Regions from separate parts of the Homo sapiens genome. Here regions 2, 3 and 4 are each linked to region 1. The links come from fine-mapping of genetic effects on gene expression. A gene starts in region 1. Each other region holds a variant in brackets. All regions are shown on one strand. Distances are from middle to middle. Region 1 holds the start of S100A11 (S100 calcium binding protein A11). Region 2 has its middle 9.0 kb from the start of LINC00302. Region 3 overlaps TCHHL1 (trichohyalin like 1). Region 4 has its middle 3.0 kb from the start of LCE1D.

Evidence for each region. PIP is the estimated chance that this variant, and not a neighbour inherited with it, causes the effect.
Region 2: its variant is the best candidate, but not a certain one, in a credible set for the expression of S100A11 in monocytes after LPS (Quach 2016, PIP 0.79).
Region 3: its variant is the best candidate, but not a certain one, in a credible set for the expression of S100A11 in whole blood (GTEx, PIP 0.74).
Region 4: its variant is the best candidate, but not a certain one, in a credible set for the expression of S100A11 in B cells (Fairfax 2012, PIP 0.74).

What each region holds. Positions count from the first base shown.
Region 1 is chr1:152,034,517-152,039,669 of GRCh38, forward strand. It overlaps S100A11 (S100 calcium binding protein A11), which reads right to left and starts at 2,488. Exons shown (of 3, transcript NM_005620.2): 1 at 2,397-2,488. The coding sequence starts at 2,399. RefSeq lists enhancers at 557-851, 3,949-4,108 and a silencer at 1,697-1,991.
Region 2 is chr1:152,643,879-152,649,031 of GRCh38, forward strand. It overlaps the pseudogene LCEP4. Among named protein-coding and RNA genes, the nearest start is that of LINC00302, 9.0 kb to the right of the region's middle. The variant G/A (reference allele first, on the strand shown) is at 3,037.
Region 3 is chr1:152,080,975-152,086,127 of GRCh38, forward strand. TCHHL1 (trichohyalin like 1) reads right to left here. Exons shown (of 3, transcript NM_001008536.2): 3 at 3,167-5,153. The coding sequence ends at 3,993. Among named protein-coding and RNA genes, the nearest start is that of TCHHL1, 5.5 kb to the right of the region's middle. The variant A/C (reference allele first, on the strand shown) is at 2,855.
Region 4 is chr1:152,791,189-152,796,341 of GRCh38, forward strand. No RefSeq gene overlaps it. Among named protein-coding and RNA genes, the nearest start is that of LCE1D, 3.0 kb to the right of the region's middle. The variant T/C (reference allele first, on the strand shown) is at 3,008.

The DNA.
Region 1 (5,153 bases):
AGAGAAGGTGGAGCTTCTCTGGAGGTCACTCCAAACCAGGAAGCTCTCAGGTTGCTGCTTACACAGCATCTACAATGTAAGAGATTTAAATCCTGTACTGGGCTCTTTCCTCACAGCAGAATTTTTCAAGGAAATTCTATAGGGCCCAGTCATCCGGTTCCCCAAGGGGACTTAGGGTCCCAAAAGTGAGGAGCTGTTGGCCTCCCTCTGGTGGGTAGAAGCCGCAATTACAGACTTTCTGGGAAACCGGCCTGGCCACACCCTTCCTCTGAGACTTTACCTACTAGCGTTAACAATGATTTATGTTTGGATGGTGACATTTGCAACTTAGCATTTAGCCTTTCGTTTGTTCTTAGGATGGACTTCCTGGAGGCCAGAGCTAGAGGCTTTCTCACTCCGTAATTAACACGTGCTAAGAACTGATCTGAGCCCTTAGCTACACAGCTGCAGATTGATTCCTCCTTCCTGTACAGCCTTTATGCTGCAGAGATCCTAGCTGAGTCTTGCCTCCCATTGCATCTTACAGCGTTAGAACCCCTGAACCCTAAGAGAGGTGGACTTTTTCCCAAGAATCACATTGTTGGAGGATGATTGTTTTTGTTTTGCTCTAAATTGAACTTTTCATTAAGAAAAGTGTTGGTAGGTTCAGGGGCCTTTAGGGGAGAAACAAAATACCACAGCCTAGAAACAGATGTGTTTGTTCTGTTACAACATGCCCTTCATATCAGGCCTAAAATCTCCCTGTCTTACTAAGGTATCAGATGACAGGAAGGAGACTGGCTGGGAGGCCACACCAGGCTGAGGAGCATGGGCTTTGTCACCTTTCTCTGGAACTACAGATTCTCCCCCTGCCCCTTTTCCTTCCAGAATGCAGACAGTTTTGCTTTTCCAGTTTCACAGTGCCTTTCTGCTTCACATTTTTCTCTCCTTAACATCAGTCTTGGTGTAATTTAGAGATTATTTTCTTTTGAAAACTGTTGCTGTTGCTATCAGCCACAAGGAGAAAATTAAAACCTCTTTGCATTTCCTCCCAGAGGTAATTCTCCAAAGTGAAAGAAAGAGACACAATTATCAAATTACTAAAATGGAACGGCATAATTTGTAGAGCTCCAGGGCACTTTGGAGATGGGTCCTGAGGACGCCCAGAAACCGGAAAGCTCTGCCCAGGGTGGCGCAGTGGCTGAAGGAGAGGAGAACCGGCGCTCTCCACACCTCATGGCACTCTTGGAGTCTTACTTGGTGGGGATGGCGATAGCAAGGAGCAAACATTATGATAAACGGATACTGTGAAATAATTTTTAAAAATGCATGCTAAGCGCTCAACATTTGAGGAAAGAAAAAAATACGATGAAAAAGACGTAGCAATTTTAAAAACCTCAACTATTGTCTTCTCATTCTTAACCAACACCCTCCGGAGCTTTCTGTCCCTGCTGTAGCAGGACTGCAACCCCAGACAGTATGGAAGGGAATGGGCGTGGCTCTGTTCCAATACTTCATTTATGGACGCTGAAGTTTGATTTCCACATAATTTTCACATGTCAGAAAGTATTTTTCTTCTTTTGATTTCTTTCAATCATTTACAAATGTAAACTTTATTCTTAGCTTGTGGGCAGAACAGAAAACCCGACTTGGCCCGCGGGCCAGTTTGCTGACTCTCCACTAAGGAGAGGTAAAGAAAGAGATTTTGGAGGTGGAATTATGGAAAATATGAGTTCAACTGGGAGATGAAAGGAGATAAGAAGAGAAAAATAAGTTACGGAGTGAGTGCCTAAATAGATGGTGGGGTAAAAGGAAGAGGAAGGAGGAGAGGGCTCAGCTGGGACCGGGTTCCTCCCACATTCTTGGCCGCGGCGCTGCGGGCGGCGACGGGCTAAAGTTTCAGTCCCGTTGGGTCTTGGCCGTCTGCCGGGTGCTTACTGAAACTTTGATTTTCCCTGGGGCTAGACGACCAAGTTCTAAAATGTCCCTTTTCTGGTGTACAGAAATAACTAGTGACCCCTCGCAGCTTTCCAGCCCCCTGCCTTAAACTTGCTCCTAGGCGTCTCTGGGCTCCCGGGAGACCGCGGGCGAGGGGCTGGAGGCAGTGACCCACGACGGGTCCCCCCCCCGCGCGGTGAGCGGCCAGCACTTCCTCTTCCCCAGCCCTGGGCCTTGTCGTGACTGGGAAGGCTAAAGAACCTCCGCTGCTACCCTAGGCGGCCACCCCAAGGATGATTTTAGGGCTTCATCCTTCCATCCCTTCTTCCCCAGTTCCCTCCCACGAGGCTGATTTTTCCTGCTGTTTCCTGCCACGTCCACACATAAGTCAAAGATAAAGTCTGCTGGGAAGTATGTGGGTTTTTTTTCTTTTCTTTTTCTTTTCATGTAAGAAGAAGAAGAAGAAAAGTGAGGCTTACCATGTTGGAGCTGAGCGAGGCGCGGGAGGCTGTGGCTGGGAGCGGCGCTGAGAGCTCTGTGCGCGCGGCGTGCGGGTCTGGAGCCTCTCCTCAACCCACGCCCTTCCCGGCCCAGCCTTGCCCAAGCCTTACTCAGACAGCTTCCGCGCCTGCCCCGCCCCTCCCCGCCTCCCGGGCTGGGCCTGGGACCGCGGCCGGCGCTAACCACAGAACTGAGCTTTAAGACTCAAATAAACCCACCGTCCTCTCCAGCGATTTAAGCAGTCTCACTCTCCCTCCTTTCCCTCTTTTCCCTCCTCTTTCCCCCCGGCCCCCTCCACCCCGTCCTGTGATTCCTGAAGATTTTTGACTTTTTAGAATTATAAGTTTTGCACAGTAGTCTTCGGGAAGTCTGTCCATGTCCGTGGGTCTTTCCCATGTATGAGCTCATTCTGGGCATTTAGGTTAGATAGGCAAAAAAGGTCTCTTTTGGAAACAGCAGTGGGCCGGGCGCGGTGGCTCAGGCCTGTAATCCCAGCACTTTGGGAGGCCGAGGCGGGTAGATCACATGAGGTCAGGAGTTTGAGATCAGCCTGACTAACATGGTGAAACCCCTGTCTCTACTAAAAATACAAAATTAGCCTGGCGTGGTGGCACACGCCTGTAATACCAACTACTTGGGAGGCTGAGGCAGAAATATCGATTGAACCCGGGAGGTGGAGTTTGCAGCGAGCTGAGATCGCGCCGTTGCACTCCAGCCGCCTGGGCAACAAGAGCGGAACAATGTCTCAAAAAACAAACAAAAACAGGCCGGGCGCAGCGGCTCACTCCTGTAATCCCAGCACTTTGGGAGGCCGAGGCGGGTGGATCACGAGGTCAGGAGATCGGGACCATCCTGGCTAACGCGGCAAAACCCCGTCTCTACTAAAAATACAAAAAATTAGCCGGACGTGGTGGCGGGCGCCTGTAGTTCCAGCTACTCGGGAGGCTGAGGCAGGAGAATGGCGTGAACCCCGGAGGCAGAGCTTGCAGTGAGCCGAGATCGCGCCACTGCACTCTAGCCTGGGCGACAGAGCAAGACTCCATCTCAAAAACAAACAAACAAAAAACAAAACCAAGAGTGTTAGTTAGGACAGAGTGCGGGTCAGAATTGTAGACAAGTTCCTAGGAGTTGGGGCTCTCTATTGCTCCACAGGGAAGATATTTAACAGTAAACAGTGGTGAGTATTGCCAAATCAATTGCCACGGGATTACTGGGGATTATTGTCAAGGGACAATTGCCACCCCTCTCTCTCAAACTTTTCTGTAAACTGAGGACAGCCACAAAGACAAAATCCGAAAACCAAACTACTGCACTTAAAAATTGATCCGTGCTAGTAAGGCATTTATCTGTGTGCAGTTTGCAATGAAATTAGGAGTTGTATTAAGAATCAGAAGACTTGGGTTCCAGTCTTGTGTCTGTTACTTCATTGCAATACTTTTGACCAGACTTGTCACTCCTTTGAGCTTCCACTTCCTTATTTGTAATAGGTCTTGAGATAGGCCTTTCCTGTTTCATAAGATTGTTAGGACTGTCAAGTAAAGTGAGGGCTTAGAAAGGTCTCCAAAAACTGCAGAGTAGACGCAAATGAAAGATAATGGGCTATAGGCATTGTGTGAACTGCTTCCCTGCACCTGCTCTCACAGGTGCCCTGAGCACGTGAGACAAATCTCCATCTCAGTTCTCAGCTACTCCAGACCCACATTTTCAGTTACTTGTTTATGAATCCACTTGAGAGTCCCACCTGCACTTCAGACTCAATAATTCAGGAATAACTAGTTTTCCCCAAACCTGTTTCTGTCTTCTCTGCTAAGGGTACTATCACTCTACCATTTTCCCTGCTTGAAAGCATTGGAGCCACTGAGTCTAAATGCCTTTTTGACTCACAGTTCTTATCAAGTGCCAGGTAATAGACTTCAAACCTTTGGTGGTGGGGGGTGTTACATGAACGGCTGCTGGGGTTCCTTAATACCTTAAAGTTACATGTAAATTTTTTGCATAAGAGAAATTTTTCTGGCGAAGAGTCCACATCTTTCATCTGATTCTCAGAAAAATTTATGATCCCAACATATTAAGGAATCATTTGTCTAAATTACTCCATAACTCAATCATGAGGCCTTACACACCACAGTTCTTTTCTTTTTTTTCTTTTTTGAGACGTTGTTTCACTCTTGTTGCCTAGGCGGCTGGAGTGCAACGGGGTGATCTCAGCTCACTGCAACCTCCGCCTCCCGGGTTAAAGCGATTCTCCTGCCTCAGCCTCCTGAGTAGCTGGAATTACAGGTGTGCGCCACCACACCCTGCTAATTTTTTGTGTATTTTTAGTAGAGACGGGGTTTCACCATGTTGGTTATGCTGGTCTGGAACTCCTGACCTCGTGATCTGCCCTCCTCAGCCTCCCAAAGTGCTGGGATTACAGGTGAGAGCCACTGCGCCCGGCCACTATAGTTCTTTTTAAGAGAAAATGCCTCACTTAGAACCTGTGCTCAAGGGGCAGCCCAGGTGGCCAAGTTTTGCATGATTTGACACACTGTGACCCTGTTAGAGTGGACTGGGTTGAAGTTAGTCTGGACACCAGCACTGCCAATCTATAGGATGGCTGGTAGTGGATGTTTCATGACATAACATGGAAAGATGAACTAGGGCCAAAAAGCTTCTTGTTTTTGGGAAACTGAAATTAGAAGCACATAGAAAATTAGGCATTTAGAAGAGCTGAAGCTGAACATTTGCATAGACAG
Region 2 (5,153 bases), 610 kb after region 1:
TCAAATAGCATATTTTCACTTCTATCTGCTTTCCATTTCTTCTGTTACATAAGCTCACTCCTCCAAACAAGCTCGGCTGAGTACATATTCCTCAGTGTCACTACACTTCTGGTGATGTTTTCTTATATCTCATATTTCACACACACACACACACACACACACACACAGACACACACACACACACACACACAGACACACACACACACACAAACCCTGGGAAGCTGCCTAGTTACCCACCCCTTAGTCAAGCTCTGCCTTGGCCTCAGGCTCTCTGAAGAAGGGCTCACTGATGATTGTGGACTATGCAGGGCTGAGAGAGTGACCGGGGCACACTTTAAGTAGGAAACAGGAACTTTATTTTTGCAAAGAAAATGGAAGATAAACAGAATGTTCTACGTGTGGAAATGCCTACATTAGCTTTGTGATCTACCATCCCCAGGATGTCAAAATGAGGGAATGGAAGAATGAGAAGCAAATTGTTTGATGCTTTGTCCCATGTGTACTTCAGAGGTCCTCAGGACCCAAGGCAGCAGCAGCTCCCAGAGCTGTGGCAGCAGCTGGAGCCCTGTGAAGGCTCACATTCACAGCAGCTGGAGCTCTGGGGTCTGTGGCAGTGGGACCTGTGGCACCTGTAGTGCTCAGGCAGCAGCCACCACCTCCTGAGCTGCAGCAGCCCCCAGAGCTGGAGCCACGGCAGCCCCCAGAGCTAGAGCTGCAGCAGGAAGAGACTGGGCATAGTGCTGTGCACTGGGATGGACAGTTTGGGGGGCATTTCAGAGTACACTTGGAAGGGCACTTGCAGGGGGCTGACACTGCTGCTGGTTCTGCTGGCAGGACATCTGGGCAGGTGTTCAATCAACCTGGAAGAGAATAATGACATGGTATGGATTAGTTAAATCAAGGGGCATGTTTTTTACCTGCTCTAGAATGAGTATGAAGGGCGATAGTAAATGATATTTAGAAAACATAAATAAGCATCCAGAGGAAACATATAAATCTTTCCTCTAATTAAAAGTACATAGATTTTAAATGCAGATGTAGTAAACAACATCTTATTCTCCTTTATAATAGGACACAAGGATTTCTCAGTCTTCATAGTCCTGCATGCAGCATTCAAAACTCTCTGAAGTGCCACCATATTATTATAAAAACAAGCCCCTAAAATAGATGAGGTTGGCACACTTGCCTTTTGGCCCAGGGCAGTTTCCAGAGTGGCAAAGTGCCACTGACATCTTAAGCCACAAGGCAATAGTTTCCTCTCCCTCTGAATTTTATTCCTGTTCAGTATGGCAGAAATCAAATACATAACTCTTTTTCCTAAGACTCTTTACTTCCTCCAATCTCTCTGTCCTTCTCCAACCCCTCTGGTCTCCCAGGTTCTCATTCATCCTGGTCACACAAAAGAGCACAGACATGTCCCTAGGGCGTCAGAGCAGATGAGGTGCTGGAGCTGGGTATGTGTCTTTTATAGACCCAGGCTTGGCTCCAGTAAGAGCAGGAAGTGGCTCTTGTCCAACCAGGCATGTGCTCGGTGATCTGTGACATTCCCCTCTCTCCTTGTCCCTGCAATTCAAGGAGGCCTTGGGAGCTCCCAGGACCCCTCTCTGGGGCTAGGGTCTAGACACGCTTTATCCAGTTGCACCCTCTTCTAGGCTGGAGCTCTGAAGGGTTAACTTGGGATGCACAGGGAGCCAATGTCTGGATAAAGATGCTATTTGTTCTTTGGGAAAACTCAGGTCAAAGCCATATTTTATTTTTTATTTTTATTTTTCATTGTGGAAACATTCCGTTCTGATTTCCCCCACGCTTGGGGTTTGTCTTTGAGGTCCTGCTTTAGGTACCAGCCATTCCTAGGCTGGTTGTTCTGGAGTTTTGAATTAGGAAGAACCCTCCCCACCCAGCCATCCTTCCTGGGACCTGTCCTTCAGGGTGGACTCTGGGTCTCTGCTTCTCCCTCAGCTGTCCTCTGAGGAGCAGCTGTGCTATTCTGATTTATTTTACTTGTGAGGATAGTGATGACTGAGCTGATTTAGTCAAAACAATTAACTCTTTCTTAATTTGGCAAGAGGAAGGCAGGCTATAGAGGTCATGTCTCTGTAACTATAGTCAGGAAACCTGGTGTCAATTCTAGCTGTAACTCGTGACCTTTGAAATATCACTCATGTTTCCTAGGCATCTGTGTTCTTTTTAAAATGATCAATGAGTACCCTAATACTCATTGATTTGAACATTAAGAAATGAAAATATGTAGCATGTGTTTTGTACGTAGAAGATGCTCAATAATGCATGCTAAAACAAATTGACAGCATCTAGGCCTTATGGGGGGTTGAAAGATGGTCACTTACGGTTGCTACTTTTAAGGAGCTTATCCCTAAACTCTAACAAGTGGCCTGAGAAGGGCTTGCCATCCTGGGGAGCTTCTAAATCTGGAGTCCAGTTATCCCTGGGAATGAGGAATGGGAGATGACATTGACTGAGGGATTGAGTACACTTGACATTGAAAAATCAGGGAAGAGTTGGGTTAGACAGATTTTTTCATTTATTGAAGGCAGTCATTGTACCATTCATTGTTTGAGGAGCAGAATAAAGCTGTGAACTAAATGGCAGTGGCCACTCCCTCACTGAGGTTCCCAAATAAGGAGAAACATATGACCTCTAAAAGTCTCTTTTAGAGGTGCTCCATTCTCTATTTATTTATTACCTATTTTCAGACAAGGTCCCTACCCTCCACAAGCTTTCAGGCCAAATGTAAAATAGATTTAAAAAATGAACAAAGTGTTTGGTTAAATGGACATTCATTTAGCACACCAGATGAGGTCTGTGGACATCAGTCTGGAATTTGGGATTTGGATGTGAATCAGACACAACCTCTAACCTTGAGAAGCTCACAGTCCACTAGAATCTCTGAAGCACTTCTTTGCATGAGAAAAGCCCATGAGGTCCAAAGCAGGTGGCTCTGAATTTCATCTCCTGAATCACTACTTTGCAATGAGATATGTGAGATACTTTCATTAGTCCAAATTTTTCTTTGGTGTT[G/A]TCAGCCTGAGTTTCCTCATTCTCTGTGAAGAGATGTTTGTAGCAACCATGATGGAGTGAGAGGCAGGACTGAAGTGTATGGGCATTTACATGTGGTGTGTGTGTGTGTGCATCCATCATCCATGCATGTACACACACACACACACACACACACACACACTTATATACTTAATTGGCGGTGGGTACAAAAGCACAAAAAAGCCAATTCCCCTGGTTTTTGGTGGCAGGGGATAGAGAAGCACTTCATTACACTCACCGGTGTCCAAGTATTTAGTGTGCCTTCTCACTGTTCCATGTACTGAAATGCATATGAAACAGCATACTATTTCACAAAGTTGTCCCTACTCCATAAGATTTCTTACTAGTATTTTAAAACATTATAAGATATGTGTGTTTATTTCTATAATTCTGATCCTATCAGAATGTGAGAGCTGCTGAGTAAAGAAACCCTGTTTTCATCCTCTTGGGTCCCCGTAAAGTGGTTGTTCAAATAAATAAATAATTATGTTAGATGGATGAGTAAATAATGATGAATGCCAGGGTGATGATTTCAGAAGTTTATCTCCAAGTCCCTTTAGACTGGGAATCAATAACCTCCAAGGTGGTATCTCTAAATGTCTCCAGAACCTCTTCATTCATCAGAAGGTCTTGCTAGGACCTCAAATCTACACCCCTCCCAATATTTGTTCTCTTTCCACCATATGATTATTTCTCTGGTCAAGACATTTGATATCTGGTCAAGACATTTGGTATAATCTTTGATCTATCCCTTTTCCCCATCACATATACACAAAGGGACATCCAGTCTTGTAGATTCTTTTGAAAAAACTCTCTTAAAGTTTTCTATCCTCTCTTTCCTATTTGTCTCATCTAAGCCCCACCTCACAAAGCTTGGCAAGAAAGATGTGACCACCTATTTCATGAGAAGGGACTGGCACGCAGCGACCCAGGCCTTAGAGCCTCAGCCCAGTGACCAGGTTCTTGGGATCTCAGGCTATCTGAGGCTTATATTTGGGAAAGGGTGTGGCTCGTTGAAGGCCCACAGGTCTTGGGCCCCATTGAGAGGCTGGAGTGCTCCTACAGCTCTTTTGGAAGGAGAATGTCAGGAATGGCCCTAAGTGTTCCTTGGTTGTGAGAGATTTTCTCCTGCTCTTTCCAGAGACAAGGCTCATTTCTGAGCCCAGCCTGGGGACTCCTCCTATGAAAGGTGTCCCTGGTTCTTCTTCTTCCTCCTTTTGGACACCTCTGCAGCCTGAGCTAATTCTGAGACTCATCCTGGTAAGTGTGTCTGTGCAAAACCAAAGGACATCTCTGGATTTGGCAGTTTTGTGGTTTTCAGATGTTTACTCTAAGCATTCTTGTACATGTCTTCTAGGAGCAGAATTGCTGAATCTTGGTGTATTTAGTAGCTAAGAATTTAAATTTATAATGGAGAGCTAATCTGTTTTTCAAAATGATTGAATTTTTATGCCCAATATCCTTAAATAAATTTGAAACGATCTACTCCTTTATAGTTTTGTACTGTTCGCCTAGAAAACAATTTTGGCCATTGTTTTCTATGTTTCTTAATAGTACTTTAGTTTCTCAACTAGTTATAAGAGAATTCATACTTTTTGTCTCTTCTTGAGCTTATTTTACTAGATTATACTTTTTAATGTATGTTTTCCATTTTGTCTAAGCTTTCAACGTTGGCAGTGTATAGTTATTGACAGTCTTTCATTTTTATATTTTGTTCTCTGCTTTATTATTGTTATGAAGATACATAACTTTTTAATTTATAATATTTGATGATAACTTCTCTTTTTTTAACCTAGATTAGTCTTGCCAGGGTGGGTTTTCTGGGTATTTGTTGTTGTTGCTGTTTGTTTGTTTGCCTATTCTGGAATTGGGACTCCTCTATTTAAAAATATTTCTCATCCTTAAGGATGAGAGTTCTTGCCAAGTTTTCCTTTCAACTATTTTCAGATCCCAGGGTATGGTGGTCAGGGAGCTACCATGGAGGATTAAGTCCCCTCTTGAGTAAAGCCAGGGAAACATAGAGAAACCCTGCTCCTGTGAAGAACTCAGGAAAATGGTTGGGAATTAAATTAGTTTGAGTTTCACATCCTCATCCTTCT
Region 3 (5,153 bases), 46 kb after region 1:
CGAGGGTGCCTACAAGAGGGGTAAAAGGGCAAAGGGTGAGACCCTTCCACCGGTCCAGCTGGACTCTAGCCTCAGGGACGTCCTGCTCCTGGGGGCAGGTGTGTGGCCCTGGATGGGCCCCCCTGTGGGGCTGTTGGGGGTGCGGGGCTGATCTGCCAGAGCCCTTCCGCCTGGCGCCCGGCCCAGGTGCTGGCTGGCACCCAGTGGCCCTGTCTTGGCCGGCCCTGTCTCCCGGGTTACAGGGCCAGAACCTGGAAGCAGAGCGCAGGACCAGCCAGATCCCGCTAGGCTCCCCCGGGTCCTCTCCAGTGCCTCTGTGCCGCCTGGAGCCAGGCCCGCCTTCTCCATGGCTGCTGTGGCCTCAAGGGCCACCAGCCCCGCTCCGCAGGTTTCCAAAGAGAGGACGCGGTGCCCTGACCTGACTGGATGCGCCTCTTACCACATGCCTCCCTGGCAGGCAGTGTCTCCACTTTTTACAAATTTGCCTGAGACCATTCCTCAGGTCATTCAGGTGGTCATGGCCCAGCCAGGCTTTGAACCTGGGCTGTGTGATTCCACAGCTGGCGCTCTGGCCTGTGTGCCTCATGATCATGGATACAGCATCTATTCTTATTTTTTCCTGTAGTCCTGGGGTACTTAGCACCATGGCATATCTGTAATAAGCACATGCACACCTTGAAGGAGTTCTTCACTTCAGCATACAAGTTGACCATGGCATGCTCTGGGCTCCAGTCCTCTACAAAGATGTAGGGCAGGAACTACCAGTTGTCAGCACAGCACCATCCCACATTACTCTTCTAATGGAGCCTTTCACCCCAGATGTTCTTTCTTGTTTGATGGGAAGGATCCAAGTATGTAAAGATTATGTTCTAGATCAGCTTTGGTCTGTCCTAAAAGAAATTTGCCAGTGGATTATTCCATATGGATAAAAGTCAGTTTCTCTGGTCTTCCTGGAATGTGTCTAGAAAGCAAATACATTATTTACAAGTTCATAGTAGATCAATGTATTGGATTAAAATATGACAAACATAATTTGGTCATTGTGAGCATGCCAGCTCGGTCAACTATTCACCACACATGATGCCCTAAATATAACTCTAGGTTTTCTTATGCCCAAGAGAGGGACATACTTTTGGGTGTCTGGACTAGGAAAACATGTATGAAAAACCATTTGACCACTCTACATCTTGTTATTGGAGAATTGAAACCATCTATATTCAAAGATATTATTAAAAGGCAAGAAGTTAAAAAAAAAGAAAAACTATTGAGATAACAAAGTGGATTAGATATGAAGAATAAGACAAGGTAAATGATGATTCCAAAGTTTGTGCCTTTGAAGCATGATAGAATGAAGATTGAGAGAATGACAGTAGGAAGGAAATTGAGAAGACAAGCCAGTTTGTCTGGAAGTGGTTGACAATAGAAGGCGTCATATCTGTGAGCATTTGTAGAGACTGGATTGAAGTGCACAGTCAGGTTTGAACAAGGTGAATTGAGACTCATCAGTGTGAAAGAGATAATAGTAAGTTGGACCAAGCATGGGTTCTCACGAGGAGAAAGTTCATAAAAAGAAGAGTCCTTGGAAAGGGGGCACAGTCTTGGGCACTGGATGAGAGGAATTAACTAGGGAGATGGGGAAAGACCACTGAAGGGAGTATTTCATGAAAGACAGTCATCAATGCCCGATGTCCAAAACTGTGGAAGCTGGAGGTCTTTAGGCTTGTTGGATGGAGGGCAACATCACCTTCAAAGGAATACTTCTTGAAGGATGATGGCAAAAACATATATATATATATATATATATATATTCAGCAAACTTTTCTTCTTTCTGCCCACCATTCTATTAGTGCTGATTGCTGGAATGCTAAGAGAGTGTTTAAAAATTGTTGCTATTAAGTTTTTAATTTTTTCAGTTAAGAAAATAAAATATGCTTAGTACAGAAAATTTTGATTTCTTTTTCTATTTTAGTAGAGATTAGGTCTCACTATGTTGTCCAGGCTTGTCTCAAACTCCTGAGCTCAAGTGATCCTCCTGCCTTGGCTTCCCAAAGTGCTGGGATTACAGGCATGAGCCACTGCCCATTTATTTAATGCCGTCAGCAAACCATATAGGTAAACGTTTCTGCTTTTTGGCTGTTCTTGTTCCTCTGTGAGTTGTGCATCCTTTTCTATGACTGCCAGCACCACTGCCACTGGAGCTGTTTTGTCATTCACATTTTCTTCAATTCTAGTGAGGATTTCGAATGTTTATTGGCCATCTGTATAGCTTCTTTTGTGAATTTATTAATAATGAAGTTTTTCATTTTTATGGACTCAGATACTTATTGCCACATTGCTTGCCAAAAGGGATGACGAGTTTATGCTCTAGTATGTATATATTTATTTATACTAAAATTATCTATAATTATATATAAATAAAAATTATATATAATTTTATAAACTAAAAATTATGTATATTTTATAAACTAAAAATTAGTGTATAATTTTATAAACTGAAAATTATGTATATAATTTTATAAACTAAAAGTTATGTATATAATTTTATAAACTAAAAGTTATGTATATAATTTTATAAACTAAAAATTATGTATATAATTTTATAAACTAAAAATTATGTATATAATTTTATAAACTAAAAATTATGTATATAATTTTTTCCTTTAGTAAGTCTATGCTCTAGTGTAGTACATATGTATGTTTGTGTATGTGTATGTATATTAGAGCATGGACAAACTAAAAGAAATATATATATTTTTCTTTTTTATGAATTGTCTCATGTTTCTTGCTCATTTAAAGTAATATTTTTTTCAGATAGGGATATAATTCATATTTGAGTGTAGAATGAAAAGAGCTG[A/C]AAATATTGGAGGGGGAGGTTATATACTTGGATTTTAGGCTCTGGAAAATGTGAAGGTTGAAGTGGAAGAATACTGAACCTCGAAGGCAGAATGCAATGGGAGATGGAGTATTGGACTGCTTTTTGGCTTCAGGAAACATTGTATGATAACAATTTTATTCCTTTCCTGGGTCATGACTAAGCTTGAAGAGCATCATACTTTAATTATAGTCTTTTGAAAAAACACAAATAACTAAGATTGTTTTCGTTTTTGATCAGTGTCTCCAAGGCAAGACGGAGAATGAGGGGAAAAAAATGACCCAACAAAAGAAATTGATCATCAGGTTGTTTAATTATCAATTTTAATTTAATACCCTCATCAAACCATATAGGTAAACACTTAGTAGACTCACTGGATGGTTGGTTACAAGAGCTTCTTATAAAATCAAACATACTTTAGATTTGTGTTTTCTCTCATAATTATTCTTGATTGTTTATTTGAGCCAAAAGCTATGAAAAGTTTGTGTAAGGAGTGGGATTTAATAAAAATTTGTTGGATGAGTAATTGAAAGAATGAATCCATGGCGATAGATTCAGCTGCACCTGAACATGAGCAGAGTCATAAATTTACTTTAATCAAGTGCTAGAAAATCATAATTAAGTTATGGCATTGTCTAAAATTATTTTGAAGGATAAAATTTTAGGATGAACTTGAAATACTTCTAGGAAATGTCATGAAGCAGAGTAATCTATATATATGAATTAATATTTTATGATTATGAGATATTATTGCAGAGTCTTATAATTTCCTACTGCTCTATTTTAAATTCAATGAATCAGTTGGAAAAACTGGCACCTGCTAAAGATATGGAAGGAATTTTTCCATTTTTAATGACAGGTACATTGAGATAAACTGTCTCATGACAAAGCCCATTTTGGCATTTGGAAGTAGCATTGTTTGGTAGGAGTTTTACTGACTGTATTTGTTTGCTCAGATGTTTCTTTAGTGGTGTCCCCCACTGCTGAATATTTTATTATTTGTTTTTGTAGAAATTTAGGAAGAGAATTTAAAAGATTGTTAATCTGCATCTGAATGTGTACACGTGAGTATTGAGGGTGATTGGGAGAGAAATTGGGGGCATGTTGAGATGATAATGATTCATTGCTTTGTGGTGCTTGCCTCCCTTTGTAGTACCAGCCTCTCTCTCTGAGGGTGACCTTGCTTATCTTCCAAGGCCTGGGGAGCTGGTGTTTCCTGTGCACCAGCAGGACTCTCATCAAGTGGAAGTCCCCTGGTATATGGTTGTGATGCTTGGCTGTAGTTGAAAAAGACAGAACAATCTGAGATCTCACTGGTGAGGGATACACTGCAAAGCTCTGGGCCTGATGCCTGGGCTATCTGAACTTGCTTTTGATGCTCCTCTTGGGTTACATTTGTTTGCTGCAGTATCTTCTCCTGTAGGTACTGGTATAGTGGACTGGAATAGACTGCACCCCTCTCCACAGAACAGGGCTCTTGGTCTCTCTGCATCTGCTTTTCAAGACTTGACCAGGGGACTGAAGAATTGTGCTCTTTCTTGGCTGGACTTTTTTGGTCACCACCTTCTCCTGCCAGCTCTTGGGGACTTTCATCTTCCTCCTCTGATGTTACAGGTTCCTTTGTTTCAAGTTGTATCTTGAGGGAGGCTGAATTGTCCTCATCTAGACTTTCTAACAGAGTATTCTGGGCCTCTGTTGCTCTTCCTTTCTCTTCTTTGCTACTTGGGCCTTGGACCTTTAATTCATTTCTGCTATCTCCCTTTCCAGGGAGCTGCATTAGGGAAAGCTGGTCAGTGAAGTCTTCATCCAGGGCACCTGTGATCTCTATTTCCAGGGACTTTCTATTTTCATCTCCTGCTGTGGATTCCTGTGCTTCTGGGTGTCCATTGGGCTCCACAGCTGCACCTGGGCCTTTGGTCCCTGGGCCTTGATTCTTGTGTTCTCCTCTGGCAGGCTGTTCCTGGTCCTCTGTGAGCTGTACATCCTCTCCTCTGACTGCTGGTACCACTGCCTCCAGAGCTCTGTTTTTCTCACCAGGTGTTCCCTGCCTCTGGGTATCTGGGTTATTATTGTGACCTCCTTGCACAGACTCTCCATGTTGGTCCCCTTGACTCTGGGAGTCCCCTTGCACAGGCAGTTCACCTGTCTCTGAGCTGCTATTGCCTTCCTCTGAAGCCAGGCTGTTGGGAGTTTCAGAAGACCCCTCATCACTCTGTGTGAATGGTGACTCAGGGTCCTCCCCCTGGTAACCATCCTCCTCCTCAACTGGTTGGTCATGAGT
Region 4 (5,153 bases), 760 kb after region 1:
AACAAAACCAAAAGTTTGTTCTTTGAGAAGACCACAAAAACTGATAAACTTTTCACTAGCTTGAAGAAGAAAAAAGAGAAGAATCAAAGAACTAAAATAAAAATGAGAGGGAAGGCATTACAACTAACTTATAGAAATAAAAAATTATAGGAGAATACCATGAACAATTGTATGCTAAATTGGATAACCTAGATGAAATGGATAGATCCCTAGAAACAAATCTGAAAAGACCTATAACTAGCAAAGATCAAAACTCTGCCAACAGAATAAAGTGCAGGACCAGACAGCTTCACTCATTAATTCTACCAAACATTTGAAGAGAAATCAACACAAATCTTACTCAATGCTTCCAAAAAATTGAAGAAATGAGGACATTTATGAATTCGTTCTCTGAGGCCAGCATTATCCTGATGCCAAAGCCAGAAAACTACATAACAATATCTCTGATGATATTGAGGGATGATAAAAATCCTCAACAGCATATCAAAAGGATTATACACCTTGACTAATTGTGAATTATTCCTCAAATAGCCAAACCAATGCTGAAGAAGAAAAATATAGTTAGAGTCACATACTTCCTGACTTTAAAACTTATCACAGACAGACATAGTGGTGCATACCTGTAGTCTCGGCCACTCAGGAGGCAGAGGATAGAGGATCCCTTGATCCCAGGAGTTCTAGACAAGCCTGAGCAACATAGTGAGACCTTGTCTCTAAAAAAAAATAAAAGTAAATTAACACAATTTATTACAACAAAGCAACCATAATGAAAATAATGTGTTATTGGCATAAAGATAGACATATAGGTCAATGAAATAGAATAGAAGAGTAGCAGAGAAACTTAAAATAAATAAACCTTCATATATATGGTCAAATTATTCTTTTTTTGTCCAAAAACAGGATCTTGCTATGTTGCCCAGGCAGGACTCAAACTCCTGGACTCAAGCAATCCTCCTGTCTCAGCCTCCCGAGTAGCTGGAGCTATAGGCACAAACTATCATGCCTAGCTGATTAAAATGATTCTTGATAAGGGTGCCAATACCACTCAATGGAGAAAGGACAATCTTTTCAACAGGTGGTGTTGGGAAATTTAGATATGCACATGCAAAAGCATGAAGCTGGACCCTCAGGTTACACCATACACAAAAATTAACTCATTAAGGATCAAAGACATAAACATAGAGTTAAAACTACAGGCTGGGCGTGGTGGCTAACCCCTGTAATCCCAGCACTTTGGGAAGCCAAGGCAGGCAGATCACAAGGTCAAGAGATAGAGACCAGGCTGGCCAACATGGTGAAACCCCATCTCTACTAAAAATACAAAAATTAGCTGTGTATGGTGGTGCATACCTGTAGTCCCAGCTACTTGGGAGGCTGAGGCAGGAGAATCGCTTGAACCCGGGAGGTGGAGGTTGCAGTGAGCCAAGATCATGCAACTGCACTCCAGCCTGCACGACAGAGCAAGACTCCATCTCAAAATAAATAAATAAATAAATAAACTACAAAATTTCTAAAAGGAAACATAGGAGGAAATCTTCATGACATTGGATTTGACAATGATTTCTTAACTATGATACCAAAAGCACAGGCAACAAATGTAAAAATAGATAAATTAGACTACATAAACATTAGAAATGTATGTGAATCAGTGAACAAAGTCAATACCATGAAAAGGAAATCTTTGTTATGGGAGCAAATATTAGCAAATCGTGTATCTGGTAGTGGGTTGCTATACAAAATATGTAAAGAACCCCCACAATTAAACAACAAGTAAACAAACAACCTTATTAAAAATGGAAAAAAAAACTTGAATAGACACTTATCCAAAAGAAATTTACAAATAGCCAAAAGACACATGAAAGTATGCTCAACACCATTCATAATTAGATTAAATTATTTAAAGTAAAACCCACAGTAAGATATCACTTCAAACCCGAGAGAATGACTACTATAAAAAATAAAGCAAAACAAAACAGAAAATAACAAGTGTTGGTGAGGATGTGGAGGAATTAGAACCCTTGTGCACTGTTGGTGAGCATATAAAATGGTATAATTACTATGAAAAAGAGCATGGTGATTCCTCAAAAAGTTAATAGAATTAACATAGGGTCCAGCAATTCCACTTGTGGGTATATACAATACAAAAAGATTGAAAGTAGAGTCTTGACAGGGTACTTGTACACCCACGTTCATAGCTTTATTATTCACAATAGCTAAAAGGTGGAAGCAATCCAAGCATTCACTGCTGGATGATTATAGAAGCAAAAGGAGGCATACACATACAATGTGATATTATATGGCCTTAAAAAGGTAAGAAATTTATGCACATGCTACAATATGAATGAATCCTAAAGATATGCTAAATCAAATAAGCCAGTCACAAAAAGACAAACACTGTATGATTCCACTTATGTGAGATATGGGGTGTAGTCCATTTCATAGAAAAAGAAAGTAAAATGGTGATTGCCAGGGGCTGGGGAGAGGGAGTAAGAGAGAACTGTTGTTTAATGAGCGTAGAGTTTCAGTGTTGCAAGAAGACAAAAATTCTAGAGATTGGCTACACAACGATGTGATGCTATTTAACATTACTAAACTGTGCACTAAAAAAATGATTAAGACAGTAAATTTTGGATTATGTATTTTACCAATTTTTTTAGGAAAGTATTCACTGCAAAAATTTAGGAGAGTTCAACACAGTTGCAGTATATCAATATATTAACAATCATAACAACAACAGCAATAAAAATATTTTTAAAATATACTATTTAAATAGAATAGAATTTTCTTCTAGACTTTAATAGTATTTTCTCATCACTGTAATTGTTTAAAGGGTTGTAGATATGGAAAGAACAAAACAAAGATTACTAACTTAACTTGTTACTGGTTATAGAACACATACAAAAAATTATTCCATTTGAATTATTTCTGGTTAGATCGCAATAGTATTCACTCACATCCCATGAGACGGTGAATTTTTGACTACCTAAAAGAGAAAAACCTTGACAAA[T/C]AGGAAATTTCAGAAAGTCAGTGCTTTGCTGGACAAGATATCTTATTTGACCTAATAGCTAAGCCATGATATCTCATAGCCAAGATTCAAGTTCCAATCTTCCTAATACAACTATGTTGCTGACTCAACACCTACATCTGAGTTATGTCAGTTGAGAGCTTGGGTGTTGCCCTGCATGAAGACAGAGGCATGGACCAGATGGTATCCCAGCCCTATCATCCTAGATACCAGGAGTTGAACTTCTGAGTAGACCTGCCATTGTGACGACCTGGGAACCAATGTCCTGACCACTCCCCCATTACTAAGCCCTTTGGAACAATCTGAGCAGGAGAACAAATGTCATACCCAGGAGGGATGGTGTCAGACCTCTCAGGGTGATGTGGCCCACACACCTCACTGAGCCTGTCTCAGAGTGTGTCTCCTATGAGGGTGGCCTGAGTCATAAGGAATAGCTGTTTATAAACTGTAAATCAATGCTAATACCAATGAGAGCATTTAAAAGTCATTAAATATCCATTGTGCACATAGCTCTGTGTTGAAAAACGGAGGTAAGAAGTATGAAACACCCAAGGCAGGCCATCAAAGCATTTACTGTTATCTCATTAGAGTGATATGCCACATGAAGGATAAATAAAAAAGTGGGATTGAGCCACACTGTCCTGGAAGGGTAGAGGCCACGGCATGCACTGCAGGGAGAAGCATAATCAAAGTACAGAATATAATCCAGTTCAGTTTCAGAACATTTCTGAGAGTAGATGACAAAGGCTTAAACTAAAGGGAGAACACAGAGTCTTATTTCACTGAAGGAATTTGGACATTTACCCTTATACAGTGTGCAATCATGAACAAGACTTTACTAATGATTTAGTGTTAATTATGTACAGGGATGGAAGATGTTTTCTTGGATGTCATAAAAGAACAGAATCAAAGACACACTACAGTGTTTGGAGATACTACGTTATCACAGGAGTCTGGGCAGCTGTAATAATTGATGCTCTGAGACAGGTGGTACACACACATATACATCTCTCTCAATATGTATGCTCTGTATATGTGTTTATAAATATACATGTATCTCCACCACGTTTTGGTTAGGGTCACCATGTCCATTTTGACCTAGATATCATTCCCAAGTTCTGGGCATATCCAGAGTCTGTCAGGGGCTGGGAAGAAGAGGACTTGTCCCTCATATGGTTTAATCTGGCTTTTCTTGGTCTTCCTCTGAAGAAATAGTTTAATTTGTGGATAACCTTGCAGTCATGGCTGTCTTAGTGACTAGTGTGTCCTAGAATGAACAGCAGCCCATTTCATTAATATCCTAAAAATGTATAAATTCAGAACACTCCATTCATATAAATCCTGTGGACATGTAGAAAGCTAGTGATTCTAGTGGAGAGAGAGGAGAGGGGCTTCCAAAGTAGCAGCATAAACACATTCACATTAAATATTAAGGACTCTTGTTCTTAAAAGGCACCCGTCCCCTTATGGTCCAGGACGGGGTTCTGCCAGCCATTTGACCCCACATGGAAGCGTAGACTTATAATGTCTCACAACCATGTCTCTTTTCTTCCTGTTTCTCATCTGTGACCATCATCCGGTGCTCCCAGTGTGAACCCAGAAAAGTCCAAATTCTCACACCAATACAAAGAGCAGAGCTGCTGCTTCTTGTTTCTCTAATGAGCTGCTTCCTTGTTCACATCTCAGTGCTGACACATCAAGGACCCCACCAGAAGAAAAGGGCTATTTAAAAGCAAACAGATCACCAAACAGCCAGACTCACTCTCATTAGAAAAAAGCTGTGCTTCGTTTGTTAAACAAAGATCAGTATCTTCATTCTGTATTCAGCAAGTTATGAATGTTTCACTTATTCAGAGCCTACAATGTTTCAGTCTCTCTGTCAGGCACATTTTCTCTTTTTTGTGTTACTTTATTGACTTTCACAACCAACTAATTCTTCTGTAACTAATTCTTTTTCATCTTCCAGCTTTATGGTTTAAAAAATGGTACAGGCTAAATAGTTTCAACAGTCCCATCTCGCAGGGCCTGGTCCTGGGCCGGGTTATACTTCCAGGGTTTTACTTGTGTAGATGTCTACACTGCACCCACAGCCACACAGTTTGGTGGTGCACAGGGACAGAAATAAACA